Linked DNA regions of Homo sapiens: region 1 is linked to region 2. Evidence: fine-mapped expression QTL. A gene starts in region 2. The other region holds a variant in brackets. All regions are shown on one strand. Distances are from middle to middle.

Region 1 (16,544 bases), 42 kb after region 2:
CCTGGGTCCCATCTTACCTGGTGACCACCATCATTGTTTTCCCCATCCTCTTCCTCAACACACATACATGCACAACACATATACAATACTAGTGATGTCTACCAGTCCTGCTACTTCTGGGGTGCCTGTCTCCTGGAATGGAGCTGGAGGAGCAATGCTGTTGGTGAATAAATCAGTCTACTGGAACTCCAAGGACTGGATGTAAGCAGATCTTTTTTTCCTATAGATGTCTCAGATGTTCAGTTTTCCTGTCACAAGGCTTCCAGTCTGTATTAGTTCATTTTCACACTGCTAATAAAGACATACCTGAAACTGGGAACAAAAAGAGGTTTAACTGGACTTACAGTTCCACATGGTTGGGGAGGCCTCAATCATGGTGGGAGGTGAAAGGCATTTCTTACATGATGGCAGCAAGAGAAAAAAATGAGGAAGAAGCAAAAGTGGAAACCCCTGATAAACCCATTAGATCTCATGAGACTTATTCACTATCACGAGATTAGGATGGAAAAGACCAGCCCCCATGATTCAATTACCTCCCCTGGTTCCCTCCCATAACACGTGGGAATTCTGGGAGATATAATTGAAGTTTATATTTAAATGGAGACACAGTGAAACCATATCATTCTGCCCCTGGCCCCTCCAAATCTCATGTCCTCACATTTCAAAAGCAATCATGCCTTCCCAACAGTCCCCCAATGTCTCAACTCATTTCAGCATTAATCCAAAAGTCCAGAGTGTCATCTGAGACAAGGCAAGTCCCTTCCACCTATGAGCCTGTAAAATCAAAAACAAGCTAGTTACTTCCTAGATACAATGGGGGTACTGGTATCAGGTAAATACAGCCATTCCAAATGAGAGAAATTGGCCAAAACAAAGGGGTTACAGGGCCCATGCAAGTCCAAAATCTAGCAGGGGAGTCAAATTTTAAAGCTCCATAATGATCTCCTTTGACTCCAGATCTCACATCCAGGTCATGCTGATGCAAAAGGTGGGTTCCCATGGTCTTAGGCAGCTCCACCTCGTGGCTTTGCAGGGTACAGTCCCCCTTCCAGCTGCTTTCACGGGCTGGTGTTGAGTGTGGCTTTTCCAAGCTCAGGGTGCAAGCTGTCAGTGGTTCTACCATTCTGGGGTCTGGAGGACAGTGGCCCTCTTCTCACAGCTCCACTAGGCAGTGCCCCAGTAGGGACTCTGACTCTGTGTGAGGGCTCTGACCCCACGTTTCCCTTCTGCATTTCCCTCCCTGGCAGAGGTTCTGCATGAGGGCTCTGCCCCTACAGAAAACTTTTGCCTGGACATCCATGCATTTCCATATATCTTCTGAGATCTAGGCGGAGGTTCCCAAACCTCAATTCTTGACTTCTGTGCACCCGCAGGCTCAACATCACGTGGAAGCTGCCAAGGCTTGGGGCTTCTACTCTCTGAAGCCACAGCCCGAGCTGTACGTTGGCCCCTTTCAGCCATGGCTGGAGTGGCTGGGACACAGGGCACCAAGTCCCTAGGCTGCACACTGCATGGGGACCCTGGGCCTGGCCCACAAAACCACTTTTTCCTCCTGGGCCTCTGGGCCTGTGATGGGAGGGGCTGCCATGAATGTCTCTGATATGGCCTGGAGACATTTTCCCCATGGTCTAAGGGATTAACATTAGGCTCCTTGCTACTCATGCAAATTTCTGCAGCTGGCTTGAATTTCTCCTCAAAAATGGATTTTTCTTTTCCACTGCATCATCAGGCTGCAAATTTTCTGAACTTTTATGCTGTTTCCCTTTTAAAACGGAATGCTTTTAACAGCACGCAAGTCACCTTCTGAATACTTTGCTGCTTAGAAATTTCTTCTGCCAGATACACTAAATCATCTCTCTCAAGTTCAAAGTTCCACAAATCTCTAGGGCAGGGGCAAGATGCCACTAGTCACTTTGCTAAAACATAATAAAGAGTCATCTTTGCTCCAGTACCCAACAAGTTCCTCATCTCCATCTGAGACCACCTCAGCCTGGACCTTATTGTTCATATCAGCATTTTTGTCAAAACCATTCAGTAGGTCTTCAGGAGGTTCCAAACTTTCCCACATTTTCCTGTCTTCTTCTGAGCCCTCCAAACTGTTCCAACCTCTGCCTGTTACCCAGTTCCAAAGTTGCTTCCATATTGTTGGGTATCTTTTCAGCAACACCCCACTCTACTGGTACCAGTTTACTGTATTAGTTTTCATGCTGCTGATAAATACATACCTGAAACTGGGAACAAAAAGGTTTAATTGGACTTACAGTTCCACATGGCTGGGGAGGCCTCAGAATCCTGGCGGGAGGTGAAAGGCACTTCTTACATGGTGGTGGCAAGAGAGAAAATGAAGCAAAAGTGGAAATCCCTGATAGACCCATCAGATCTCATGAGATTTATTCATTATCATGAGACAGCATGGAAAAGACCAGCCCCCATGATTCAATTACCTCCCCCTGGGTTCCTCCCACAACACATGGGAATTCTGGAAGATACAACTGAAGTTGAGATTTAAATGGGGACACAGCCAAACCATATCACAGTCTTTCTAAAGCTAAATGTCCAGCCCTGAGTTCCTGCCCTCCCCTTGCTCTGGCAAACTCAGATACTAGATTACCAGGCTTGCATTATCCACGGGCTGGCCTTTAGCCAAGGGAAACCTGGGAAATGGTGACTTCAACAAAGATGGGGAAGATATTAATGTGCTTGCTACTGATACATGATAATCCTATTATAGGTCTAAAATTATTTCTAAAAAGAGGTTGCACTCAAGGTTTGAACATTGTGTTGTGGACTGAGTACATCTGTAAATCAGTGCCACAACCAGTTACTAACAAGCTGTTTCACTGAGCTCACCAAGAGTCCCATTTCTGCTCAGTACTGGGCACCACTGGTTTTTATCCCAGGGTCAAATCAACTGAACTTGCCCAGTGGATGATCACTGAGTGGGTCTTTAAGAACTTGTGGGAGGGTAGTGCCATGAGGGTGCTGAAGTACTCCCCAAAAGGAGACTGGGGGGCCTGTCAGTTACCTGCTGGGGATGGGGGCTGTGGACAGAGGTGATTGGGATTCCCAAAGATCCAGGGAATGGGTTTCCCTTAAATGCTCAGAGATCTCAGGCTTTTAGATTGCTTAGAGCCCACGGGTAAGTTTCAGTGATAAAGGAAAAGAAGACACCCCCAACCATTGGCAGGCAGGACTCAAGAGGTGGATCTGCAGAAAGGAAAGAGCAGAGGCATCTGAAGTTTCCAGACCTCTGAAGTCTGGCTCTTCAAGCTTGAAGATAGGAGGGCTGGAGGGGCGTGCACCTCTGTGTCATCACCCATTGGCTCCTGTGCCCTATTAGGCCAGCCCATCCACCCCCCAAATTCCAAATGCTCTATCTGCTTGAAGACTTGCACTATTGAATCGGGTAATGTGGGGATGGGAGAGAGAAGGCGGTGGGCTCCTCCTTCTCATCAAATAGTCTGGGTCTTCAACCTCCTCCCTTTTGGGAACCAGGGCACTCATCCTCCCTTCTGCCTCAAGGCCCCTCCCACCTACCTCCCCACCATCCCCGGTCCAGTTTTGGAGGTGGAACTTGGGAGAGGGGGATTGAAAAGTAGGGGCTTACCATCTCAAAGAAAGAAAGAAAAAATATTTTATTTCTCTCTTAGTGTGTTTCCCTCTCTCTCTCTCTCTCTCTCTCTCTCTCTCTCTTTCTTTCTTTCTTTTTTGACAGAGCCTTGCTCTGTTGCCCAGGCTGGAGTACAGTGTCTCGGTCTTGGCTCACTGCAAACTCTGCCTCCTAGGTTCAAGCAATTCTCCTGCCTCAGCCTTCTGAGTAGCTGGGATTACAGGGGTGCACCACCACGCCCAGCTATTTTTGTATTTTTAGTAGAGACAGGGTTTCACCATGTTGCCCTGTCTCTAGACAGTCTCGAGACAGTCTCGAGAGTCACATGTAGCCCTGTCTCGAGAGTTGCTGGTCTCGAACTCCTGACCTCATGATCTGCCCATTTTGGCCTCCCAAAGTGCTAGGATTACAGGCGTGAGCCCCTGCACCCAGCCTTTTTTTTTTCTTTTTTTTGAGACAGTCTCGCTCTGTTGCCCAAGCTGGAGTGCAGTGGCACGATCTCGGCTTACTGCAACCTCTACCTCCTGGGCTCACGCGATTCTTATGTCTCAGCCTCCCAAGTAGCTGGGATTATAGGCGCACACCACTGTGCCCAGCTAATTTTTGTATTTCTAGTAGAGATAGGGGTTTTGCCATGTTGGCCAGGCTGGGCTCGAACTCCTGGCCTCAAGGGATCCGCCCGCCTCAGCCTCCCAAAGCGCGTGAGCCACTGCACCTGGCCTAATTCTGCTTTCTAATTTGCATCCCTGACATGCGGGACGCTTCAATAGGGATGGCGCCACGTTCAAGAGGCTGAAGAAGAGACCCAGGGCTAGCAAACGAGAAATAGGGTTTATTTGAGATAACTTACAGGGTGATCCAGTGGTGATGAGCTGGACAGGAGAACCACACCCACTTGCAAAATGCATGCAGTTTATATGGCACTTTCACTCAGCACCCTCCCCCAGCAACCTCCATGCGGCAGCCCTTATCCTCAGGGTGTGCTTAAGTTATTGCTGCCAGGTGCGTCTACCATATACCCTCACTCCAGCATACCCACCTTGCTGTGTTTTTTTTGTTTTTGTTTTTCATTTTTCTGAGACGGAGTCTCACTCTGTCGCCAAGGCTAGAGTGCAGTGGTGCGATCTTGGCTCACTGCAACCTCCGCCTCCCAGGTTCAAGTGATTCTCCTGCCTCAGCCTCCTGAGTAGCTGGGATTACAGGTATGTGCCACCACACCTGGCTAATTTTTGTATTTTTAGTAGAGATGGGGTTTCACCATGTTGGCCAGGCTTGTCTTGAACTCCTGACCTCAAGTGATCCACATGCCTCGGCCCTCCCAAAATGCTGGGTTTACAGGCGTGAGCCACTGCGACCTGGCCACTCTAGCATACCTTTGAATGGCCCTCACATTCTTGTACCGTTCTTCCACCATTTCCCTGGGGCCAGGTATGCGGAGGAGCATTGCAGCCAGACACCACAGCAGCAATACAAACTACAACAGAAAAAATAATGAATATAAAAGTGGCTTCAGGTACTCAGGTTAACTGCTGCGAGGCACCACGGCAGGCCCGCAGTGGAGGAGAGGGGCAGCTCTCTGCAGACCCAACAGTCTGTTTTGTTCTGGAGAGAGACCACCGTCTGTGCTCAGCTGGCAAGAGGTTTGCTGCATACCATCTATGGGTGAAAAGTGAGATGTTTAGTGAGTACAAGAAGGGGCAAGTCATGGTCATTTTTTTCTTTTTGAGACAGAGTTTCACTCTTGTTGCCCAGGCTGGAGTGCAGTAGCTGGATCTCGGCTCACTGCAACCTCCGCCTCCTGGGTTCAAGCGATTCTCCTGCCTCAGCCTCCCAAGTAGCTGGGATTATAGGCGCCCGCCATCATGCCCAGCTAATTTTTTGTTTTTAGTACAGGTGGCGTTTTGCCATATTGGCCAGGTTGGTCTCAAACTGCTGGCCTCAGGTGATCCACCCACCTCGGCCTTCCAAAGTGCTGGGATTACAGGCATGTACCACTGCACCCAGCCTCATGGTCATTTTACAAGAAACAGGAAGTTGTGTCCTTCTGAGACAGCATCACCCCGAGAGTGGCCTGGTGCTTGGTTTGCAATACCAAATAGGTTGGCCCCCTCTCTACAAAGTGTCACATGAGGCTGGAGTAAGACAATAGGGATATTATGCAGTGTGGGCATCCAGACGCTAGACTGTTACATGCATCCCCCAGGTGCAGTGGAGAATGTTCTTCTATATCAGCCCCCCAAAGGGGGCTGCCTGCTACCATCCAATCCTGTGTTTCTCCTTGTAGTAGGCACATGGTGGGCCCCTTAAAGATGGTGCCCAGATGTCAGTGCACAGGACTGTTGGGTCCGGCTCCTAGAAGAAACCATCCAGGCAGCTCAGCCCATTGGCTACATGTCCTTTGCCTGTATCGAGCCAGATACTCTCAGTGGACAGCTGGATACAGGTGGAAGGATTGCCTCGTGACAAGCCATCTGTGTACCAGGCCTGGTCAGGAATTGGGGCCTGTCCCTCTTATATAAAGGAGGGAATATGTGGAGGCTCAGTGCCTTGTCAAAGACTGTCCTTCAGCTGTCACATAGGTGACAGGGCCAAGCAGCAAACGGAACCCTGTGCTAGTTCGTGTACTCCTCTGTTGCAGGCATGCGTGCCATTTGGCCACAATCTGTTTCTGGGCATTCCCAGATTTTGGTTTCTGGAAGGTGTCCTACTTTCGACTAGGATAAAGGCTAAGGCCTCAGGATCCCGATAAGAGCAATGGTGGCTGAGTGTCTGGAGACTGGCGGCCACATATAGAGCTAGCTAACTATATATTGGTCACCTAAGAATGCACAGGCTGGCTGGGCGTGGCGGCTTACGCCTGTAATCCCAACATTTTGGGAGGCCAAGGTGGGCGGATCACCTGAGGTCAGGAGTTTGAGACCAGCCTGGCCAACATGGCAAAACCCTGTCTCTACTAAAAATACAAAAATTAGGTGGGCGTGGTGGCGGGCACCTGTAATCCCAGCTAACCTACTATGGGGTACTGGGTATGTACTAGCATGGGAACCCCTTTGGAACATCTTCCACTTGCTGTAAGGCATAACACGTAGTGCAGAATTATAGCTCCCTGACACTGTAACTTCAGTCCCCTTCCATAGCTGGAACCAGAATCCTAAAGGTACAAGTTTGTGTCCTTGCCTTTGCCACTGGTCCCAGTTGGCCCCCTTCTTGACTAAGTGGTACAGTGGCCTAAGGAGTTGAGCCAAATGGGAAATAAAAGGACACCACGGCCTTAGAAGAACTAAGAAGGTTTGCAGCCACTTTGGTGGTGTAGGATGTGGGTAGGCCTGCACCATATGTAGAATGGCAAATTGAACACCGTTAGTCTTACCCAACCAGATGACACCAAGTATTGGACTGATAAGCCTGGACCCTGCCTTTGTCTGCATTGACCGCCCATCCTCTGTTAACCAAGTGAGACAGCAAGGTGAGGGCTATAGAGACTCAGAAGTTAGCTGGCAAAAGACTCAGAATTTAACATCAATGTAAAGGAAAACATGTACCCTCTCCAGGGTAGTCCATCTACTGAGGTCTGTGGCCACTAGGCGTTGACAGATAGTGAGGCTATGGAAATATCCCCGCGGCAAGACAGTAAAGGTATATTGTTCTCCTTCCCAGGTGAAAAGGTTAGGCTTTTTTTTTGAGAGGGAGTCTCGTTCTGTTGCCCAGGCTGGAGTGCAATGGCGTGGTCTCGGCTCACTGCAACTTTCGCCTCCCAGGTTCACACCATTCTCCTGCCTCAGCCTCCTGAGCAGCTGGGATTACAGGCGCCCGCCACCACGCCCAGCTAGGGTTAGGCTTTGTGTCCCCATCCAAATCTCGTCTTGAGTTGAAATCTCTATAATCCCCACGTGTCAGAGACACCAGGTGGAGGTAATTGAATCATTGGGGCGGTTTCCCCCATGCTGTTCTCGTGGCAGGGAGTGAGATCTCGCGAGATCTGATGGTTTTATAAGGGGCTCTTCCCCCCTTC[G/C]CCCGGCCTCGTGAAGAGGGTGCCTTTCTTCCCCTTTGCCTTCTGCTGTGATCGTAAGCTTCCTGAGGCCTCCCCAGCTATGCTGAACTGTAAGTCAATTAAACCTCTTTCCCTTATGAATTACCTAGTTTTGGGCAGTTCTTTATAGCAGCTTGAAAACGGACTAATATACCAGGTGAATGCAATGACAAAATGAGGTGCGTGCAGTCCCTCTCTTATCCTCATAAGAAAGGAGGCGATATGAGAACAGCTGCATACATTAGGGGGACGGCTTTGTTGAACTCCCAGTAATATGTCATTCTCCGTGTCCCATCAGGCATCCACATGGGCCATGCAGGGCTATTGTATGGGCTGTTCACTGGTCTTATAATGTCTACCCAGACTTCTTTCCTTTTCAGTCCCTATGATCTCATCATGACCTCCTGGCAGGTGTTGTCGTTTCTTTTTTCTTTTCTTTTTTTTTTTTTTTTTTGAGACGGAGTCTTGCTCTGTCGCCCAGGCTGGAGTGCAGTGGCACGATCTCAGCTCACTGCAAGCTCCGCCTCCCGGGTTCGCGCCATTCTCCTGCCTCAGCCTCCGGAGTAGCTGGGACTACAGGCACCCGCCACCGCGCCCGGTTAATTTTTTGTATCTTTTAGTAGAGACAGGGTTTCACCGTGTTAGCCAGGACGGTCTGGATCCTCTGACCTCGTGATCCGCCTGCCTCGTCCTCCCAAAGTGCTGGGATTACAGGCGTGAGCCACCGCGCCCGGCCAGGTGTTGTCGTTTCAATGCTGCTATTCACAGAGGGGCTGGCAGCTGTGCTGGTGTCCATTTCGCATTCCCCTTGATCACGCGCCTCACCATCCTAACTCAGTCGCAATTCAGAGGGTCACAGTCCTGATGAGACAGCCCTTCCCAAGATGTAATCTGGGATAGGAGCTCTGTATACTAAATAGGGTTTGGGCAGCAGTCTCCTAACTTGTAATACTAGCTCAACCTGTCTGACTTTCACGACCCCCGCCCCCACCGACCATCTATTGTTATAGGCCACTGGAACCACGGATGTCACCACATACGAGAGTGCATTCAGCTCCAGTATCCGCTGGGAACAGCCTGTACATTCTTGTTTTTTTGTTTCGTTTTGTTTTTGAGATGGAGTCTCACTCTGTCACCAGGCTGGAGTGCAGTGGCACGATCTCGGCTCACTGCAACCTCTACCTCCCGGGTTCAAGCGATTCTCCTGCCTCAGCCTCCAGAGTAGCTGGGATTACAGGTGCCCAGCTAACTTTTGGTATTTTTGGTAGAGACAGGGTTTCACCATGTTGGTCAGGCTGGTCTCGAACTCCTCACCTCGTGATCTGCCCACCTCAGCCTCCCAAAGTGCTGGGATTACAGGCGTAAGCCACCTTGCCTCCTGGATGCATTCTTGGTTTTTTGCCTTTTTTTTTTTTTTCTGAGACGGAGTCTCACTCTGTGGTCCAGGCTGGAGTGCAGTGGCACGATCTTGGCTCACTGCAACCTCCGCCTCCCAGGTTCAAGTGATTCCTATGAAGGGACTCAAGATAGACGCCAGTGTGCCACACCATTGGTAGTGTGCCTACTGTAAGATGGCATTTCTCATGCCCGCAGTGAAAAGCTCCTTGTCAGGGCCTCGGTAATGCTCAGTGTAGATAGCAAGCATCACCCCTAATTCCCAGAGGATGTCCCTCAATTCCTCCATAATCTGTCATCACAAAGGAGATGTGGGGACATTCCTTTCTTTCTTTTTGAGATGGAGTCTCGCCCTGTTGTCCAGGCTGGAGTGCAATGGCTCCATCTCAGCTCACTGCAACCTCCGCCTCCCGGGTTCAAACGATTCTTCTGCCTCAGCCTCCCGAGTAGCTGGGATTACAGGCACCTGCCACGACACCCGACTAATTTTTGTATTTTTAGTAGAGACGGGGTTTCACCATATTGGCCAGGCTGGTCTCAAACTCCCTACCTCATGATCCTCCTGCCTCGGCCTCCCAAAGTGCTGGGATTACAGGCCTGAGCCACTGCACCCAGCTGGGACATTCCTTTCATTTGGCCAGGCTGCCTTGCAGCTTGCAACCACCCGGCTAAGGAGGGGGTGGCCCGATCGTCATTATTGGTGCCATCGAGGCACCGCCTCAGGGCTGGATGGTTGGTGATGGATGCCATTTCACTCATCTCTGTTCCATGTCCCATAGACAGAGAAGCCACCCTGTGACCGACTCTCTGCCCTTCTTCCTGAACCTAGTTCCCAGCTCCACCAACTCCACAGCCGTGGAATCCCGCACTATGGTGTCTTCCAGGCAGGGGCAAGTCTTGCAGGGTGACCCCCTATGTCTGTGGTTGGTCGGCTTTCATCTTGGTGTTGACCAGCAAACGTGCAGAGAGGATGGGCACCTCCATGAGCTCATCCCAGGCCTCACTCTCTTCCCCACTAGAGCTCTCCATGGGGTCCCAGAACTTAGGGTCCCAGGATGATTTAGTCATGAGGGCCCTAACTCATTGACATAGCAGCCAGCAGCTTTTCAAATGGACCATACCTGACAAGCCAGGGTCTCTCCATTTTGTCATCCCGTGCCTGCAGGCAGGACAGTCGGTCTCTGATGTTTCAGTCTGATCTAATTAGGCATCTCTTTGTCATCGCAGTTCATCTTGTAATGGATGCACCTTCACCTGCGCCATGAGCCCGGCCCCCGAGGCTGCTCAGAGCACAGTCAGGAGTGGCCAGCCAACCGCAGCTGCCACAGCTCAGGCATCTAACTTTTGCTTAGTTAGATCCACCTCCTGCAATAGCTCTTCCAGACCCTTCAGTGTTTTGGGGGCATCTCTGTACCCATGCCTTGGGCCTCATCCATCAAGGATAGTGGCTGTTGGGCCCCACACAGACGTGGACAGCCAGCCCGAGATGCCCCCCGATGATATTCTCCTCTCCAATCCCATCGACTCTGCGTGCACAGGATTTTCTCCAACCTCCTGCTGGGATCATCGGTTGTCGTGCCAAATGCCTGTTAACTTCAGTAGCCATGGCACCAAGTTCAAGAGGCTGAAGAAGAGACCCAGAGCCAGCACACAAAACACAGGGCTTATTTGGGGGAACTTGCAGCATGGGCCAGTGGTGGTGGACTGGACAGGAGAACTACAACCATTTGCAAAAAGCATGCAGTTCAGGCCAGACTCGGTGGCTCGTGCCTGTAATCCCAGTACTTTGGGAGGCTGAGGCAGGTGGACCACTTGAGGTCAGGAGTTCGAGACCAGCCTGGCCAACATGGTGAAACCGTCTCTACTAATAATATAAAAATTAGCTGGGCATGGTGGCGGGCGCCTGTAGTCCCAGCTACTTGGGAGGCTGAGGCAGGAGAATCGCTTGAACTTGGGAGGCAAGGTTGCAGTGAGCTCAGATGGTACCACTGCACTCCAGCCTGGGTGACAGAGCGAGACTCTGTCTCAAAAAAAAGAAAAAAAAATGCAGTTCATAGGGCACTTTCACTTAGCATCCTCCCCTAGCAACCTCTACGTGGCAACCCTCATTCTCAGAGGCAGCTTAAGTTATTGCTGTCAGGTGTATCTGCCATAAGGGTAGGGTTAAGGAAAGTTATTGCTATCAGAGATGTCTACCAGACACTCCCAAGCTCCCTTTTGTCCAGAGGCCTAAGATAGTCTTCTGTGACAGCTTTATTGAAATGTGATTCATATACCACACAATCAACCTATTTAAAATTTACAATTCGGCCAGGCATGGCGGCTCATTCCTGTAATCACAGCACTTCGGGAGGCCGAGGTGGGTGGATCACTTGAGGTCAGGAATTCTAGTCCACCCTGGTCAATATGTCAAAACCCCACCTCTACTAAAAACACAAAAATTAGGCGGGCATGGTGTTGGGTGCCTGTAATCCCAGCTACCTGGGAGGCTGAGGCAGGAGAATCTCTTGAACCTGGGAAGCAGAGGTTGCAGTGAGCTGAGATCATGCCATTGCACTCCAGCCTGGGGGACAAGAGCAAAACTCCGTCTCAAAAAAAAAAGTTTACAATTCAATGATATTTAGTATATTCATAGAACTGCCGCATTTTGCCAAATGGCTTTTTAGCATTTAGTGGACTTGTTGATAGAATTTTAAATATTGAACTCTCCTTGTGGGATCAATTCTACTTAGGTGTAATGTATTATCCTTTTGATATATTCTAGATTCTACTTGCTAATATTTAGCTTGTTCATCTCGTCTTTGTAAATGAGGGGTTTTTTTCTACTTTTTATAAATTTTGGCATTAAAGTTATGCTAGCTTCAGAAAGTAAATTGAGGCGCTCTTTATTTTTTCTGTGATCCTAAGCCAGTGCTGCTCAAACTTTAGTATGCTGAAAGTCACCTGGAAAGCTGGTTAAACAGATCGTTGGGCCCCATCTTCTAGTGATTTTTTTTTTTTTTTCTTGAAACAGAGTCTTGCTCTTGTCACCCAGGCTGGAGTGCAATGGTGCGATCTCGGCTCACTGCAACCTCCGCCTCCCAGGTTCAAGCGATTCTCCTGCCTCAGCCGTCTCGAATAGCTGGGATTACAGGCGTGCACCACCACTCCTGTCTAATTTTTGTAGTTTTAGTAAAGACAGGGTTTCGCCATGTTGGCCAGGCTGTTCTCGAACTCCTGACCTCGTGATCTGCCCGCCTTGGCCTCCCAAAGTTCTGGGATAACAGGCGTGAGCCACTGCACCCGGCCGCCCGCTAGTGATTTTTATGTGGTGAATCTGGATTCAGGTTCATTAATTTGCATTTATCACACTCCCAGGTGATGCTTAGGATTCGTGGGCCACACTTTGAGCAGCCTGGTGTAATTGACATTAGAACCATCTGCTTTTTAAAGGTTAAATCGAACTCATCTCTGAACCCATCTGGTCCCAGAGCCCATTTGTGCAGTAAATCTCTACTCATCTTTCCAACCCTTTCCATTAATTTTCCCCAAAATTCTTGGATTATTTTTAGTAATTTACATTTGCCAGACACTTTCAGTTTCCTCTAAGGTTTCAGATTTGTTGACCTAGGATTTCATATAGCATATGTCCTTAAAATTCTAAATTTGATGGCTGTGTCTCTTTTCTCATTTTTTACATTTTGTTATTTTTATTTATCTTTTTCTCAATCAGATTCACAAGTGGCATTTGGATTTACTTAGCATTTTTACTTTATTTTCTATCTTATTAATGTCAACTTTATAATTACAATTTCTAGTTTGTTTTGTCTTTATTCTTCTGATTTCTCAAACTCCTGACCTCAAGTGATCCACCTGTCTCAGCCTCCCGAAGTGCTAGGATTACAGGCGTGAGCCACTGCGCCCAGCCTATTCTGATTTCTTAAGGGGAGTATTAAGTTCCTTTATTCATCATCTTTAGTCTTCAGTAAAGTGTAATTTTTGCTGTATGTCAAAGGTTTTGATATGAAATCTCCTTTTTATGCTACCTAGAAACTTTGTAATTTTCTACTTCTTTTTAATCCAAGGATTATCTGGAAGTGTGTGTGTGGGGTTGTGTGTGTGTGTGTGTGTGTATAGGATTATCTGGAAATATATATACACACACACTTTTATGCTACCTGGAAACTTTGTAATTTTCTACTTAGCTTCTTTTTAATCCAAGGATTATCTGGAAGTGTGTGTGTATGTATGTGTGTGTGTGTGTGTATATATATATATATATATATATATAGATAGATATATAGATATGAGATGGGTGTCTTGCTGTGTTGCCTAGGCTGGTCTTGAACGCCTGAGCTCAAATGACCCTCTCACCACAGAAGCATATTTCTTAATTTCCAAGTCATTAAGGTTATTTTCTCTTTTAAAATTGTTCATTTCTTTTTTTTACGATTTTTACAAATATTGTTTATTTTAATGAAGCTGGTACAATGTCCATTTAAAACCCATATCCCAGGCCAAAAAGAACAAATAAAAAAGAGCAGTGTTCTGCCTTATTCATTTCTACGTGTATTGCTTTATTAATTGCTAATGAAAATCAGAACTTTTCTGGGATCTTCTGACAAGATTTAAAAAAAATCTTAAAATGCCTTTTCTTCAGTGAAGCCATCTTTGGAGTTAGGCATCACTCTTACCTGATCTGTCGTCTTGACTTCAACCTGATATTCCTCTTCTTTTGGTCCAGACCCTCAAATTTTAAAAGTACCTTCAAGTTAAGGAAAGGTCGTTTTTCCACTGTTCAGTTCTCTGAAAAAACTCCCATCTCCCACTGAAAGTCACAGTCCAGGAGTGAAGCAATCACATGCTAGAACATCAGGGCCAGTTGGAAAGTCATTATGAACACCTGCATTGGCCGATCTTACTTATCACCACCACAAGCCTGAAAATGCAATGTCCTGAAAAAGGTGGCCTCTCTGTGCACACGTAATTTTTAAAAAGGAGAGGGTAGGCTGGGCGCGGTGGCTCACGCCTGTAATCCCAGCACTTTAGGAGGCCGAGGCTGGCAGATCACAAGATCAGGAGATCGAGACCATCCTGGCTAACACGGTGAAAGCCCGTCTCTACTGAAAATACAAAAAATTAGCCAGGCGTGGTGGCGGGTGCCTGTAATCCCAGCTACTCGGGAGGCTGAGGCAGGAGAATGGAGTGAACCCGGGAGGTGGAGGTTGCAGTGAGCCGAGATCGCGCCACAGCACTCCATCCTGGGCGATAGAGCGAGACTCCGTCTCAAAAAAAAAAAAAAGGAGGGTAATATGAAGGGGACTGAGGCTTGATCACCAAAAATCAGCACAATGAAAACAAATGATAATGAATAATGAACACCAGAATTCAAATTACCAGATGTTTCAAAGAGATGGGGTACCAGTTTTCAATTGCGTTTTGAACACCACATTACAAAGGAACTATTTTTAAAAATAAAGGATTAAAGGATCGAGGGAAAATAAAAAAAGAATAAGCCGTTGAATGACCGCCCCCCACTACGTTTGTTCCTGATAAACTTCAATCACATCTTCTTCCTCCATTCCCAGTTCTTTTGGAGTATGATTATCAGCAATTCTCTGACCCTCAAAGAGAAACCGAGTGGATTCATTGGAATACCCTGTCTTTGACAGTATGATTCTTTGAGTTTCTTGAGATGTGTTGTCATTTTCACTTTGAAGTGAATCTCACTGCTATCCTGTCCAGTGACTTTGAGTTTAATATATTCACCTTCCTTCTTATCCCCCAAGTCCTCAGTTGAAGGTTTTGCCTCCTGGTCAGACATGATGACAGTGGCTTCACCCAGGGGTCTCCACACAGCAGCGGCCTCGAGTAGGCAGAACCGCACTCCAGGGTTCACAAATCCATCTCCCTTCCCTAAAATTGTTCATTTCTAATATGACTAAGTATCTATTAAATCGTATTTGTTTGCATTATTCAATTTCTCTATGTCCTTTTTTTTCTCTATTAGATCTGTGAGTTCTGAAAAAGTTGTATGATAATTGCCATCGTAGTTATATTTTGATCAATTTCTTTTTGGTTTTATACGTGTTTTGCCTTAAATATTTAGCTCTCCAGTTGTTTGGTACATATAGGCTTGTGGCTGTTATTTTTTTCTTTGCGTGTTGAGCATGTACCATACGTCTCTAATGTGCTCGGTACTTTTAATCTTAAATATTGTTTCCTGATACTCAGATTTCAATCTTGGCTAGGATGGTTGGGGCATTTGCTTTACAATAAATCATTCAGGTGAACATTTCAGTTTTGTACACTTTTTGGAATATGTGTATTTTATAATAAAAAGGAGATAGGTTAGTATGCAAGAAGAAAGCAAAACTCGCCCAAAAAAGGAAATCTGGCCGGGCGCAGTGGCTCACGCCTGTAATCCCAGCACTTTGGGAGGCCAAGGCAGGCGGATCACGAGGTCAGGAGTTCAAGACCAGCCTGACGAACATGATGAAACCCCGTCTCTACTAAAAATACAAAAATTAGCTGGGCATGGTGGTGCACGCCTGAAATCCCAGCTACTTGGGAGGCTGAGGCAGGAGAATCGCTTGAACCTGGGAGATGGAGATTGCAGTGAGCCGAGATCGGGCCTCTGCACTCCAGCCTGGGTGACAGAGCAAGACTCTGTCTCAAAAAAAAAAAAAAAAAAAAAAAATCTATAAATACAGTACTAAGATTAATGAGTGAGTTTATCAAGGTTGCTGGATACAGGGTTAATAGAACAATATTAGTAGCGTTTCTACATACCAGCAAGAAATAAATAGGTAATGAAAAATATAAAGATAACATTTATAATAACATGAAGCTATTTTAAGTGCCTAGGAATAGATCTAATAAAAAAAATACAAAACTTCTATGCCAAAACCTATAACCATTATTATTATTATAGACAGGGTCTCTCTGTTGCCCAGGCTGGAGTGCAGTGGCATGATCTTGGCTCACTGCAACCTCTGCCTCCCAGCTTCAAGAGATTCTTGCGCCTCAGGCTCCTGAATAGCTGGGACTAAAGGCATGCACCACCATGCCCAGCTAATTTTTTGTATTTTTGGCAGAGATGAGGTTTCACCATCGTGCCCAGGCTGCTCTTGAACTCCTGACCTCAGGTGATCTGCCCGCCTTGGCCTTTCAAAGTGCTGGGATTACAGGGGTCAGCCACCATGCCCAGCCTATAATCATTATTATTATCAAGAACAGTGTTAATCCATGAGGATTAACAGATTTAAGCATGAAAGGCAAATTTATAAAGTGTTTAGAAGTTATGTGGAAGAATAACTTCATGATCTGGGGGTTAAGAAAGACGTATTAGGGCCGGGCGCGGTGGCTCATGCCTGTAATCCCAGCACTTTGGGAGGCCGAGGCGGGCAGATCACCTGAGGTTGGGAGTTTGAGACCAGCCTGACCAACATGAAGAAACCCCATCTCTACTAAAAATACAAAATTAGCCAGGTGTGGTGGTGCATGCCTATAATCTCAGCTACTCGGGAG
Region 2 (16,119 bases):
TGAGAATTATCCTTGGACTTACATAAAGCATTTTGGACTTTATGTAAGTAACAACCTGTTGTATTAAGCTACTAAGATTTTACGGTTGTTTGTTAAATCAGCTAACCTTAAACATCCTAACAACTACAAATAGAATACCTGTTACTGCATACACTATATATATCAAAACATTATTATGGGCCAGGTGAGGTGGCTCATGCCTGTAATTCCAGCACTTTGGGAGGCTGAGGCAGGAGGATCACATGAGCCCAGGAGTTCGAGACCAGCCTGGGCAACATAGTGAGACCCTGTCTACAAAAATTAACAAAAAAATTAGCTGGGCTTTGTGGTATGTACCTACAGTCCCAGCTACTCAGGAGGCTGAGGTGGGAGGACTGCTTGAGCCTGGGAGATCGAAGTTGCAGTGAGCCGTGATTGCACCACTGCACTCCAGCCTGGATGACAGAGCAAGACCCTACAGGGGAAAAAAAAGTGGAACACCAGGAGCTACCAGAAACTGAAGAGTCAAGGAAGGATTGTCCTCTGAGCCTTTGAAGGAAGTGGCGTGCTGACACCTTAATTTCGGACTTTTGGCATCCAGAACTGTGAGATAATATATTTTTGTTGCTTTAAGCCACCAAGTTTGTAGTAATTTATACAGCAGTCTCGGGAAGCGAATATACCTGCTCAATCAGAAACTCTGGGGGCGGGCCTGGCAATCTGTTTTTTTTTTTGTGTTTTTTTTTTGTCTCACTCTATTGCCCAGGCTGGAGTGCAATGGCACAACCTCGGCTCACTGCAACCTCTGCTTCCCGGGTTCAAGCGATTCTCCCGCCTCAGCCTCCTGAGTAGCTGGGATTACAGACACCCACCATCATGCCCAGCTAATTTTTGTATTTTTAGTAGAGACAGGGTTTCACCATGTTGGCCAGGCTGGTCTTGAACTCCTGACCTCAGGTGATCTGCCCACCTTGGCCTCCCAAAGTCCTGGGATTACAGGCAAGCCACTGCACCTGGCCTGGCAGTCTGTGTTTTAACAAGCCTTCCTGGTGACTGATGTGCACTAACGTTTGAGAACAGCAATTCTACCCATTGAATTCACCTGATCCCCTCCTCCTTTACTGGCAAATTCCCTCTTGCTTTTCCTCCTTCCTTCTTCACTGGCTGGTTCTCCTCAATCTTCATTGGATCGTCCTTTTTCTAGCTTCTAAAATTTGGGGAGTCCTAGCCCTTTCTAGCTACACTCACTCACGAGATGATATCATGCAGTGCCATAGTGTTCATCGCAATCTACAATACTGTTGACTTACCAATTTATATGCCTAGCCTCAAACTTTCCCCTGAACTGCGGACTCAGGAAGATTCATTTCCCAGGTCTCCTTGCAGTGAAGGACAACTTAACCTCTGCCTTTGGCTGTATAATTGACATCTCAAACTTAACACGCCCAAAACGAAACTATTGATTCCCTCCCACCTCCTGCACACTCCAGTACTTTCCTTTTCAGTAAATTGTCACTCCATCTTCCAATTCTTCAGGCCCAAAGTTTTGGAGTCTTTTTTTTTTTTTTGAGGTCTTGCTCTGTCACACAAGTGGGAGGGCACTGGCACGATCATGACTCATTGCAGCCTCAATCTCCTGGGCTCAAGTGATCTTCCCACTCAGCCTCCTGAGTAGCTGGGACAACAGATGCGTGCCACCACACCTGGCTATTAAAAAACACTTTTCTTTCCTTTAAGAGACAAGGCCGGGCTGGGCACGGTGGCTCACGCCTGTAATCCCAGCACTTTGGGAGGCCGAGGCGGGCGGATCACGAGTTCAGGAGATCGAGACCATCCTGGCTAACACAGTGAAACCCCCGTCTCTACTAAAAATACAAAAAATTAGCCAGGCGTAGTGGCGGGCGCCTGTAGTCCCAGCTATTCGGGAGGCTGAGGCAGGAGAATGGTGTGAACCTGGGAGGCAGAGCTTGCAGTGAGTGGAGATCGCACCACTGCACTCCAGCCTGGGCGACAGAGCGAGACTAGACTGTCTCAAAAAAAAAAAAAAAAAAAAAAAAAGACAAGGCCTTGCTATGTTGCCCAGGCTAGTATCCTACTATCAAACTCCTAGCCTCAAGCAATCCTCCCACCTCGCCCTTGCAAAGTGCTGGGACTACAGGTGCAAGCCACCGCTCCCGGCTGAGTCATTCTTGATTCCTCTCTTTCTCTCAGACCCCAAACCTAATCACCATTAGTTTTCTAATGCTCTGTAACAAATTACCCCAAATTTAGCAGTTTAAAACAATAAACATTTCTTAGGCCAGGAGCGGTGGCTCACTGTAATCCCAGCACTTTGGGAGGCTGAGGCAGGCAGATTACGAGGTCAGGAGTTCGAGACCAGCCTGACCAACATAGTGAAACCCCGTCTCTACTAAAAATACAAAAATTAGCTGGATGTGGTCCCACCTGTAGTCCCAGCTACTCGGGAGGCTGAGGCAGGAGAATTGCTTGAACCTGGGAGGCGGAGGTTGTGGTGAGCTGAGATCGCACCACTGCACTGCAGCCTGGGCAACAGAGCAGGACTCTATCTCAAAAAAAAAACACAATAAACATTTCTTACCTACTGTAGTTTTTGTGGGTCAGGAATCTGGGAGCAGCTTAGTTGGATGATTTCTGCTCACAGTGTTTTATGAGGTTGCAGTCAAGATGTTGGCTGGGGCTGTAGTCATCTGGAGATTTAACTACGGCTGGAGGATCCACTTCACCATGGTTCACTCACCTGGTGCTGGTTGCTGGCAGGAAATTTCAGCTCTTCTCTTATATGGATCTCTTCACAGATTGCTTGAGTGTCCTCACCGTATGGTGACTGGCTTCCTTTACAGAAATCAGTTGAAGGGAATGGGCAAGTAAGAAACAGCAATGCTTTTTATGACCTAGTCCTGAAGTTCCCCACCATTACTTATGTTCATTGGAAGCCAGTTGCTAAGGAGAGCCTGCACTCAAAGATTGGGGAAATAGACTTTATCTTTCAAAGTGTTGAAGAATTTGCAGACGTATTTTAAAACCACCACACAATCCATCAACACATCATGTCGGCTCTATTCTTGAAATAGATCCAGAATTTGACCACTTTTCACCATCTCCATTGCTATTACCCAGATCTAATCAACACCATCACTTGCCTGGACTAGAGATTTCCTCCTCACTGGGCTCTCTGCTTCTATCTTTAGCCCATTGCTATGATTTGGCTGTGTCCCCACCCAAAATCTCATCTTGAATTATAATCTTCATAATCCCCATGTGTCAAAGGAGAGACCAGGTGGAGGTAACTGAATCATGGGGGTGGTTTCCCCAGGCTGTTTTTGTGATAGTGAGTGAGTTCTCATGAGATCTGATGGTTTTATAAGGGGCTCTTCCCTCCTTTGCTTGTGAAGAAGGTGCCTTTTTTCCCCTTTGCCTTCTGCCATGATTGTAAGTTTCCTGAGGCCTCCCCAGCCAAGCTGAACTGTGAGTCAATTAAACCTCTTTTCTTCGTAAATTACCCAGTCTTGAGCAGTTCTTTACAGCAGTGTGAAAACAGAGGAATACACCCATACATGCTATTCTCTGCCCAGAAGCCAGGGGGAGCCTGCCATTAAAATGAAAGTCACTCCTTGACTCAGAACCCTCAAATAGCTTTCATCTCACCCAGAAAAAAAAGAAAAAAATTCCGACCATGACCTATAAGGGCCTCCAAATAATACTCTGGCCCCTGCCACTGCTCTGATCTGATCTGTTGCTACCCTTTCCTCAATCACTGGGATCCATTCATATCAGACTCTTTGCCATTTCCAGAACCCATCAAGTGTACTTCTTGCCTCAAGGCTTTTGCTGTTGCCATTTTCTTTGCCTGGAATGTTCTTCCCTATGCTGTTCACAAGGCTCCCTTCCTTCAGCTCTCTGCTGAAATATCACTTTCCCCAAGAGTCCTTCTTGACTACCCTGTCTAAAGTAACTCCCTATCAGCACTCTTACTCTCTGAAATTCTTTCTATTTAGGCATTTACTTTCTTTGTGCAACTGGAACGTAAAATCTTTTTCATAACTATATCCCAGGGGTCTAGGACAGTGTGGGGCACATCATTCAATAAATATTTATTGACCGACTGAGACTTTTCCTGGTGCCTTGAACACACAGTTTGCCCTGCCTCAGGGCCTTTGCACAGCCTCAAGGCTTGAGATGTTCACACACATTTTTCACCTAGCAAATAATCCTTTAAGCCTCAACTCCAGTGTTATTTCCTTAGAGAAATCCTCCTTCTAAATTAGGTCTATGGGCCGGGCGCAGTGGCTCACGCCTGTAATCCCAGCACTTTGGGAGGCTGAGGCGGGCGGATCACCTGAGGTCAGGAGTTCAAGACCAGCCTGGCCAACATGGCAGGCTGACTCTACTAAACCCTGACTCTACTAAAAATATGAAAATTAACCAGGCGTAATGGCAGGCACCTGCAACCCCAGCTACTCGGAAGGCTGAGGCAGGGAGAATTGCTTGAACCCGGGAGGCAGAGGTTGCAGTGAGCCGAGATTATGCCACTGCACTTCAGCCTGGGTGACAAAGTGAGATTGTCTCAAAAAAAAAAAAAATTCGATAGAAATAAATAGGTCTGTGGCCCTTTTCTGTCGCAGCACTTTTTTTTTTTTCCTTGAGACAGGGTCTTACCCCATCACCCAGGCTGGAGTGTAGTAGTGTGATCTTGGCTTACTGCAACTTCTGCCTCATGGTTTTAAGTGATTCTTGTGCCTCAGCCACCCGAGTAGCTGGGATTACAGGCGTGCACCACCACACCTGGCTCGTTTTTGTATTTTTAGTAGAGATGGGGTTTCACCATGTTGGCCAGGCTGGTCTTGAACTCCTGGCCTCATGTGATCCGCCCACCTTGGCCTCCCAAAGTGCTGGGATTACAGGCGTGAGCCACCATGCCCGGCCTGTCATAGCACTTAATACAATTTATAATCATGTAATTATTTGAGATTCATCATATATCTGTTTTCTTGTTGTGTGAAGCAAAACGAGGGCAGGAATGGGGTCTGTTTTGTTCTCTACACTATTCCCAGTTCCTAGCATTTAGTAGACTCTCGATAAATACGTGTTGAAAGATTGAATGATTCCCAAAGATTGTGATGAATTCTTACAGCACCCCCAAAATTTCCTCTTCATCTCTTTGTTCAATCATAACAATTTAAGCCTTTCATTCTCAAAGTGTGGCTCAGGGACTCCTGGGGGCTCTTGAAACACTTTTGGGGGTCCATGAGGTGAACATTATTTTCATAATACTACTAAGATATTATTTGCCTTTCACTTTCATTTCCTCTTTGAATATAGTGATGTTTGCCAGAAGCTACAAGACATGAGCTATTTTGACACACTCAGTGCAGAAGCAGATATGAGAATCCAGCTGTCTTCTATGAAGCCAGACATTAGAGAGATTTGCAAAAATGTAAAATGATGCCATTCTTCTCCCCAAATTTTTTCTTTTTTTTCCTTTTTTTTTTTGAGACGGAGTCTTGCTCTGTTGTCTAGGCTGGAGTGCAGTGGCAAAATCTCGGCTCATTGCAACCTCTGCCTCCTGGGTTCCAACGATTCTCCTGCCTCAGGCTCCCGAGTAGCTGGGATTACAGGTGTGTGCCACCACGCCCGGCTAATTTTTTTTTTTTTTGACTTTTAGTAGAGACGGGGTTTCATCATGTTGGCCAAGCTAGTCTCGAACTCCTGACCTCGTGATCCACCCGCCTTGGCCTCCCAAAGTGCTGGGATTACAGGCGTCAGCCACCGCGCCCAGCGCCAAAATTTCTTTTGGAGTAGAAATTATAGTTATTTTAAATAAAAATGTTATTTTGACACATAATGAATTTTTAAACAATGACTATTTTAGAAATTTATTTTAATATTGATAGATACAACTCACATAAACATACAACCCATATAAATGTAACTCATAAATTATTGGAGTCCTTAATAATTCTTAAGAGACCGGAAAGTATGAGAACGGATGACCTAAGTAAATCTTTGAGTTTTTAATTCTTGTCTGCAGCCCTAGTAGGCTTCTGAGCTCTCTTAAGGCAACGTCCCTGTCTGCCTTGTTGGACGCATATTTAAGGTTTGGTTTCTAGTAGGCGATCTTTAAGTAAATGCGAAAGGTTTGAAGGCTAGAAGGAATGAATGAGACGATTCTCCCACTTCCTACCCTCTTCTTCCTTACATGAAGTGGAAGCAAAGTGCATGTGCCAGAGAAAGGCCTTGTCTTAGAGCCCCGCCTGAAGCGTGGCATCGTGGGTGTCGGGGTGGGGTGCGGTGGGGAAGGGAGTGGCGCGTGAGCAGTCAGAGGATGTGCACACGTGCGTGCGTGTGGGGAGAGAGCAGGGAGTTGGGGAGGGCGAAGTGGTTACAGTGTTTGCTACAGCTGTAGGGAAAGAGTGAGGGGGCGCGGCGGCGCATGCGCAGAGAATCGGCGGGAAAGGCCGCGCGCCAGGCAGATCGAGGGGTGTCGCCCAAACCGATCTGTCGACGCCTGAAGGGGCCTGAGGAGATTGCTAGGCTTCTCAGCTGGGGCTTCTTCACCCTCATTTTTGTCCGACTGGCTGGACTGAAGAACCTGGCAGAAGCCTTGGGGCTAGGGTGAGGGTCACGGCCCAGGGAGCCCTAAAATGTTCCCACATCTGGGGTGTGTGGGGCTGGGCGCCATTTTCGAGGCCCGGGCCCACTGGGCTCCACTGACGGGTGACAGGTGACTGGCTGGGAGCCTCCTGGTTGCCCTGGGCTCTGTGGAGCTGAGGGATCAAAGGGGTCCCTCCTTTACCCCCCACGTAGGACAGAGGAAACTGTCTTCGGCTCTCCTCACTCATCCAGTCCGAGTTTGAGCCAATTCCTTGACAGGATTCGGCCATCAGTCCCTGCCTTTGGGGAAAGCCATCAGTGTCAAGTGCCCGAGTGGCAGAAACCCGGGTCTAGCCCCATCACTGGTCTGTTAGGGCAGTTATTTTCTGCTTTTTGCAGAAATGGGACACCAGCTCCTTATTTTCCTTTTCTGGAGGTTATAGTTCCAGGGAAGGAGGTAATGTGAGGGGAATGGGCATTTCTGGGGGATCCTGAGCACTCCCCACAGGGCATGAGCCTAGGAGTTGCTTGGGATGACGGTGTAGGGGCACCATGGAGGGTTGCACCCATATGGGAAGAGGAGTCCGCCTGGGGCTCAAGGGGCTTTATGGATGTTGGAAGTGGCCAGCTGGCCAAAACTCAGTTCTCTCCCTTCCGTAAAGCTTGCTTTTAAGGACAACTGTTCTAGAATGTGTTTAAGAAACATGAATCTATTATTTTTTATTTATTTATTTATTTGAGATGGAGTCCCACTCTGTCACCCAGGCTGGAGTGCAGTGGCACGATCTCAGCTCACTGCAACCTCTGCTTCCCAGGTTCAAGCGATTCTCCTGCCTCAGCCTCCCAAGTAGCTGGGACTATAGGCGTGCGCCACCACCCCCAGCTAATTTTTTGTATTTTTAGTAGAAACGGGGTTTCACTGTGTTGGCCTGGCTGGTCTCGAGCTCCTGACCTCAGCCGATCCACCCGCCTCAGCTTCCTAAAGTGCTGAGATTACAGGTGTGAACCCCCGTGCCCAGCCTATTATTATTATTTTTAAGAGACAGGGTCTCTCTCTGTCTCCCAGGCTGGAGTCCAGTGGCATGATCACCTCTCACTACAGCCTCGAACTTCTGGGCTCAAGCAATCCTTCCACCTCAGCCTTTCAAAGAGCTGGGATTACAGGCTGAGCCACTGGAGGCTTGGTTTTCACTTATTTTGGGTGTATACCCAGAAGTGGAATTGCTGGATCATATGGTAATTCTATTTTTAAGTTTTTGAGGAACCACCATAGTGTTTTCCATGGTGGTTGCACCATTTTACATTCTGACCAGCAAGGCACAAGGATTCCAATTTCTCCACATCCTCACCAACACTTCTTATTTTCTGCCTTTTTATATTAGCCATCCTAATGGATGCGAGGTATTATCTCATTGTAGTTTTCATTTGCATTTCCTTAATGATTAGTGACGTTGAACATCTTTTCATGTACTTCTTGGAGATTGGTATATCTTCCTTGGAGAAATGTCTATTTAAGTCTTTTGCCCATTTTTGAATTGTGTTGTTTGTTTCTTTGTTGTTGAGTTTTACGAGTTCTCTATATATTCTGAATATTAATCTCTTATTATACATATGATTTTCAGATATTTCCTCCCATTCTGTGGGTTATCTTTTCACCCCTTTGATAGTGTCTCTTGATGCACAAATTTAAAACATTTTAATGAAATCCTGTTTGTTTCTTCTTTTGTTGCTTTTGCCTTTGGTATCATATCCAAGAATTCATTGCAGATCCACTATCATGAAGCTTTTGTCGTATGTTTTATTCTAAGAATTTTATAATTTTAAGTGTTACATTTAGGTCTTTGATTTATTTTGTGTATTTGTATGTGGTGTTAGGTAAGAGTCCATCTTTACTCTTTTGCCTGTACATAATCCAGTTTTCCCAGCACCATTTGTTGAAAAGACTGTCCTTTACTCATTGAGTAGTCTTGGCACCCTTGTAAAAAATCATTTTTCCATACATTGTTTCTGGGCCCTCTATTCTGTTCCCTTGGTCTGTATCTTTATGTGAGTAACACACTATTTTGATTACTATAGCTTTGTAATATGTTTTGAAATCAGGAAATGTGAGTACACCAGCGTTTTTCTTCTTTTTCAAGATTATTTTGGCTGTTCAGGGTCCCTTGAGATTTCATGTTAGTTTTAGGACGTGTTTTTCTATTTCTGCAAAAAAAAAAAAAAAAAAAAAAAAAAAAAAAAAAAAAAAAAAAAAGCTACTAATTCTGTAGATTGCTTTGGGTAATACTGACATCTTAACAGTGTTGTCTTCCAACCCATGAACATGGGATATTTTTCCATTTATTTATGTCTCCTTTAATTTTTTTCAGCAATGTTTTGTAGTTTTCTTTGTACATGTCTTTCACCTTCTTGGTTAATTCTTTTTTTTTTTTTTTTTGAGATGGAGTTTCACTCTTGTTGCCCAGGTTGGAGTGCAATGGTGCAATCTCGGCTCACTGCAACCTCTGCCTCCCAGGTTCAAGTGATTCTCCTGCCTCAGCCTCCTGAGTAGCTGGGATTACAGGCATGTGCCACCATGCCTGGGTAACTTGGTAATGGAAACGGGTTTTCTCCATGTTCGTCAGGCTGGTCTCGAACTCCTGACCTCAGGTGATCTGCCCACTTTGGCCTCCCAAAGTGCTGGGATTACAGGCTTGAGCCACCGTGCCCAGCCAAGTTAATTCTTAAGTATTTTATTCTTTCTGATGCTATTACAAATGGAATTGTTTTCATAATTTTCTTTTCAGATTGTTCATTGTTAGTGTATAAAAATGCAACTGAGTTTTGATTGTTGACTTTGTATCCTGCTACTTTGCTGAATTCATTTATTAGCTCAAAAATTTTTTTGGTGAAAATTTTAGGATTTTCTACGTATAAGATCATATAATCTTTCTAGTTTGGTTTCCTTTTATTTATTTATATTTTTGCCTAATTTCTCTGGCTAGGACTTCCAGTACTATGTTGAATAAAAGTGGCAAAATTAGACATTCTACGCTTGTTTCTAATCTTAGAGGAAAAGCTTACAGTCTTTTATCATTAAGTATGACATTTGCTGTGAGTTTTTCGTATATGGCTATTATGTTGGGATATTTTCCTTTTTTTTTTTTTGCTGAGACATGGTGTCACTTTGTGACCCAGGCTGGAGTGTAGTGGTGTCATCATGGCTCACTGTAGCGTTGACCTCCTGGGCTGAAGTGATTCTCCCATCTCAGCCTCATGAGTAGCTAGGACTACAGAAGTACATCAACACACCCAGGTAATTAAAAATTTTGTTTGTTTGTTTGTTTGTTTGTTTTTGAGATGGAGTCTTGCTCTGTCACCCAGGCTGGAGTGCAGTGGTATGATCTTGGCTCACTGCAACCTCTGCCTCCCAGGTTCAAGCGATTCTCCAGCCTTAGCCTCCCAAGTAGCTGGGACTACAGGTGCACACCACCACATCTGACTAATTTTTGTATTTTTAGTAGAGATCAGGTTTCACCATGTTAGCCAGGCTGGTCTTGAACTCCTGACCTCAGGTGATCCACCCGCCTTGGCCTCCCAAAGTGCTGGGATTACAGATGTGAGCCACTGCACCTGGCCCCAGGCTGGTCTTGAACTCCTGGGTTCAAGTGGTCATCAGGCCTCCCAAAGTGTTGGGATTACAGGCATGAGTCACCATGCCCAGCCGTATTTTCCTTTAACTCCTAGATTGTTGAGTTTTTTTTTTTTTTTTTATCATGAAAGGGTATTGAGTTTTGTCAAATGTTTTTTCTGCATCAGTTGAGAGAATCATTATTTTTCTTTCATTTTGTTAATGTGGTATATTATATTGATTGATTTTTGTATGCAGAACCATCCTTGCATTCCAGGAATAAATCCCACTTGGTCATGGTATATAATCCTTTTAATATGCTGCTGAATTAGGTTTGGTAGTATTTTTTTTGAGGATTTTTGCATCAAAGTTCATAATGAATATAGGTCTGTAGTGTTCTTTTCTTATAATGTCTTTGTATGGCTCTGGTATTAGGGCAATGTTGGCCTTATAGGATGAATGAGGAAGTGTTCCCTCCTCTCCAATTTTTTGGAAAAGTTTGAGAAGGATTGATATTAATTCATTAAAGGTTTAGTAGAATTCACCCATGAAGCCATCAGGTCCAGAGCTTTTCTTTGTTGAGAGATTTTTGATTACCAATTCAATCTCCTTACTAGTTATAGATCTATTCAGATTTTCTGTTTGTGATTTAGTCTTAGTAGATTTGTATTTCTAGGAATTTGTCCATTTAATCTAGGTTATCCAGTTTATTGGTGTACAGTTGTTCATAAGTTCATAGTACTCTCTTATAATCCTTCTATTTCTGTAGAATTGGTAATAATGTCCCCATTTTCATTTCTGGTTTTAATCATTTGAGTCTTCTCTTTTTTTCTTAGTACATCTAGTTAAAGGTTTGTCAATTTTGTTGATATTTTTAAAGAAACAACTTTTGGCTTCTCTATTGTTTTTCTATTCTCTATTCATTTCTGCTTTAATTTTTATTATTTTCTTCTGCTAGCTTTGGGTTTAGTTTGCTTTTCTAGTTTCTTAAGTTTTAGAGTTAGGTTATTGATTCAAGATCTGGTTTTTTTTTGTTTGTTTGTTTGTTTGTTTTTAGAGGGAGTCTTGCTCTGTTGCCCAGGCTGGAGTGCAGTGGTGTGATCTCGGCTCACTGCAACCTCCGCCTCCTAGGTTCAAGCGATTCTCCTGCCTCAGCCTCCTGAGTAGCTGGGATTACAGGCGCCCACCACCATGCCTAGCTAATTTTTGTATTTTAATAGAGATGGGGTTTCACTATGTAGGTCAAGCTGGTCTTGAACTCCTGACCTCAAATGATCCACCCACCTCAGCCTCCCAAAGTGCTGGGATTACAGGCGTGAGCCACTGCATCCGGCCTCTTTTTTGTTTTTTAATGTAACCATTGATAGTTATAAATTTCCCCCTTGGCATTGCTTTTGTTGCCTCCCATAAATTTTAGTATGTGTGTTTTCGTTTTCATTTATCTGTAAGTATTTTCTAACTCCCCTTGTAGTTTATTCTTTGATCCATTGGTTGTTTAAGAGTGTGTTGTTTAATTTCTACAAATTTGTAAAATTTTCAATTTTACTTTTGTGATTCATTTCTAACTTCATCCTATTGTGGCTGGAGAAGATATTTTGTATGATATTTATCATTCTAATTCTATTGAGAAAAAAAGGAAATTTGTGGCCTACAAATTTGTGGTCTCTCCTGGAAAATGTCCCATGTGCACTTGAGAAGAATGTGTATTCTGCTGCTGTTGGCTAGAGTGTTCTGAATACATCTGTTAGATCTGGTTGGTTTATTGTGTTAAGTCCTCTATTTCCTTGCTTATCTTCTGTCTGCTGCTTCTGTCCATTGTTCGTAGTGGGGTATTAAAGTCTCCAGTTATTATTGTAGAACTGTCCTTTTATCCTTTCAATTATGTGAGTCTTTTCTTGATATATATATGTATATGTATATATCGTATAGGTATATGTATATACATATACACATATACACATATATGTATAAGTATATGTATATACATATACACATATACACATATGTATATGTATATGTATTTATATGTATATACAAATATATATATATACACACACACATATATGAAGGAATTAGGGAGGAGTAAAGAAGAGTACTTGGTCAACATACAGCAGGTTCATCTCATTGTACAAATGTAAGTTTCTCAAGCTTCAGTTCTATGGGCATCTGGCTTGTTGGAAAATTGGCCTGGTTTCATTTTCCCATCCTCCCTTTATTTTGGACCTCCAGTTACACATTTTAGGCCATTTGATATTGTCTCACAGTCACTAATGCTCTGGTAATTGTTTTCAGTCTTTTTTTTTTCTTTGTGCTTCATTTTGGATTGTTTCTATTGCTATATCTTTAAGTTCACTGATTTATTAAAATCTGCCAGTAATCTTCAGTGAAATTTTCATTTCAGGTGTTGTATCATCTCTAGAAGTTCTATTTGATGTTTAAAATATATCATGGCTAGGCATGGAGGCTCATGCCTGTAATCCCAGCACTTTGGGAGGCCATGGTAGCTGGATCACATGAGATCAGGAGTTCGAGACCAGCCTGGCCAACATGGCAAAACCCTGTCTCTACTAAAAAAAAAAAAAAAAAAAAAAAATAGCCAGTTGTGGTGGTGCACACCTGTAATTCCAGCTACTTGGGAGGCTGAGGAAGGAGAATTGCTTGAAACTTGGAGGCAGAGGCTGCAGTGAGCTGAGATCAGTGTGGGCAACAGAGTGAGACTCTGTCTCAAAAGAGAAAATATCTATCTGTCTGTCTAGCTAGCTAGCTATCTAGCTATCTTATATTCCTCATTCTGTTCATGTTTTCCTTTTAAGTCCTTGACCATATTAAGCATATTTGTAACAGCTATTTTAGTGTTATGGTGTGTTAATTCCATTAGTCTATCATTTCTGTTTTTGTTGTCTGATTATGGGTCACTTTTCCTGCTTTTTTGCATGTCTAGTAATTTTTGACTAGATGGTTGACATTATGAATTTTTTGTTGTTCAGTGCTAGGTTTGTCTGTATTATCTTAAGGAATGTTGGCCTTTGTTGTGACAGGCAGTTAAGTTACTTGAAGATCAGTTTTGGCTGTTTAAGGGTTGCTTTTAAGAATTTTTTTTTTTCAGGTCTAAAGTAGTCCTACTACTAGAACTAGAGCTAGTTTATGCCACTTTAAATGTTCCAAGTATTCAGTAAAGTCTCTCCACACTGGCTGATGGAAACTTGAGTAATTCTTGTTCTTCTCCAAGTTCTAGGAATTGTTTTACCTGTAGTTCCCCAGTACTTTTCTTTCCTTGGAATTTATTCTTTGCCTGTTCTTATGAGGTTTCATACTATACATGTGCAGGTTGATATTTAGCTAATGGCTCGAAGGTACTTTATCCAGATTCCTAGAGCTCTTTCTCTGTGGCTCCCTTCTGTTGAGTACTTAGCCCAGCTAATTCTAGTCACCTAAGCCTTCCTGAACTGACTTTTGCCTCCTCAAGTGCTGAGACTGCCAGGCTCTGTTTGTATTCTTCCTCCTGTGCCAAAGTTTGGAAATTAGCAGAAAAATGGGGCAATCGTGCAATTAGTTACCTTGTTTTCTGGCCTTTTTTTAGAGATTGCAATGCTGTACTGCCTTTGTTTAATATGTGAAAATAGTTGTTTTAATTATTTGTACAGTTTTTTTTTTTTGAGACGGAGTCTCGCTGTGTTGCCCTGGCTGGAGTGCAGTGGTGCGATCTCTGCTCACTGCAAGCCCCACCTCCTGGGTTCACGCCATTCTCCTGCCACAGCCTCCCGAGTAGCTGGGACTACAGGCGCCCGCCACCATGCCCGGCTAATTTTTTGTATTTTTAGTAGAGATGGGGTTTCACCATGTTAGCCAGGATGGTCTTGATCTCCTGACCTCGTGGTCCGCCCGCCTCGGCCTCCTAAAGTGCTAGGATTACAGGCGTGAGCCACGGCGCCTGGCCTATTTGTACAGTTTTGTAGTGTTTTTGTGGAGGTAACTCCAGACACTGTTTTGCTTTCATGGTCAAAAGTGGAAATTTCTTCTCCCCATTTTTATCTGGATCCTGTATATCCTTCATTTCTATGTTTTCTTAAAATTATCTTTTAATTAATTAATTTTATTTTATTATTATTGTTATTATTTTTGAGATAGGGTCTTACTCTGTTGCCCAAGCTGGAGTGCAGTGGTGCAATCTTGGCTCACTGCAACCTCCCCCTCCTGGATTCAAGTAATTATCTCACCTCAGCCTTCCGAGTAGCTGGGGCTACAGGTGTGTCCCACCATGCCTGGCTAATTTTTGTATTTTTTGGTAGAGATGGGGTTTCACCATATTGGCCAGGCTTGTCTTAAACTCCTGACTTCAAGTGATCCTCCTGCCTTGGCTTCTCAAAGTGCTGGGATTACGGGCATGAACCACTGCACCTGGCCTATTTTATTTTATTTTTTTAGAGAATGAGGTCCCACTCTGTTGCTCAGGCTGGAGTTCAGTGGTGTGATCATAGCCCACTGCAACCTTGAACTCCTGGGCTCAAGCGATCCTCTCCACTTAGCCTCCCAAATAGCTGGGACCACTGGCGTGTCCCACTATGCCTGGCTAATTTTAATTTTAATTTTTTTTTTTTTTTTTTGGTAGAGATGGGTTTTCACTGCATTGTCAAGGCTTATCTTGAATTCCTGGCCTCAAGTGATCCTCCTGCCTTGGCCTCCCAAAGTACTAGGATTACAGGCATGAGCCACTGTGTCTGGCCTATCCTTCATCATTCTTGTTCTTGTATTGCTCAATTTGGCTTTACTCACAGGAATTTCTCCTCATTGTGGCCTCTGGGTTGGAAAAGATCCCTGGTTGGTTAATTTTAAGAGTTCATAGAATCTAGTCTGCCCTGGTCCCTTCAGTTTCTATTGTTGACTCCATGCACTCAACTGTTATTGGATTAGGCAAGACATCTTCTAGTTTTAGCTGCTGTTCTCTAATAGCCTTCCCATGATTTCTGGTGAGTACCTGTTGATTATTTTGAGAGACTGGTTTCCCTGTCCCCCATCCCCAGGTCTGTCAGATGCTCTCTTGCTTCCTTTGTTTCCTCCCACACAGATGCTGATTCTATACAGGTCTGTGGCTCTTGTGGTTTGTTCTCATAGACTTGTCTTTTGGGGTTTATCTTGATATTGTAAATATTATCCATGGATTTTGGGCTTGCAATCTAGTAGAACTACTTGTTTTCATGTGAGTATTTGGGAAGATTTTAAAACAATGTTGCTGTTATTGCCATTACCTTCCCAGGATTTTACTCTATATTTAAAAAATTATTTTATAAGTGGCATTATTATTTTAAAATTTTATTTTCTAATTATGTATTGCAAGCATAGACATATAAATAATTTTCATTTATTGCTGTTTGCATCCAACAATCTTGCTAAATTATCTTATTAATTTAAATAATTTATCTGTAGTATTCTGGATCTTCCACATAGATATATCATCTGTGAATAGTGAGTTTTGTTTAATCTTTGTCTTTTATTCCCCTTGCTTTCCTGTGTTGTCTAAAATATTTAATGCAATGGGAAGGAAGTGCTGATAGCTGGTTTCATTGATTGTTCTTGATTTCAAAAGGCAAGCTTTCTTCACTTCATTATTAAATATGTGCCTATGTTTAAGCATATGTTCACTATTAAGTATAATCTTTTTTTTTTGAGAGACACCATTTATCAGGTTAGGGAAATTATTCCTGGTTTGCTAAAAGTTTTTCTCCGTAAATCATCATTGTATTGTATGTTTTTCCTATATCTCTTGAGATGATAATATTTTTCTTCTTTATTATATCAATGTGACTAATTATATTGATTTTCTCTAGTGGTATGCTTTGAATCATCTCTACTGAGTTTTTTGCTTTGTAGTTACCACGAAGCTTACATAAAACATCTCCTGCCTCAGCCTCCCAAAGGGCTGG

Evidence for each region.
Region 1: its variant is fine-mapped to the expression of SLC6A16 in whole blood (TOPMed, PIP 0.97).

Annotation. Positions count from the first base shown.
Region 1 is chr19:49,273,413-49,289,956 of GRCh38, reverse strand. SLC6A16 (solute carrier family 6 member 16) reads left to right here. Exons shown (of 12, transcript NM_014037.3): 12 at 1-319. It also overlaps the pseudogene SUMO1P4. Among named protein-coding and RNA genes, the nearest start is that of MIR4324, 27 kb to the left of the region's middle. The variant G/C (reference allele first, on the strand shown) is at 7,623.
Region 2 is chr19:49,315,541-49,331,659 of GRCh38, reverse strand. SLC6A16 (solute carrier family 6 member 16) reads left to right here and starts at 6,469. Exons shown (of 12, transcript NM_014037.3): 1 at 6,469-6,612. RefSeq lists a silencer at 4,211-4,362 and an enhancer at 5,156-5,305.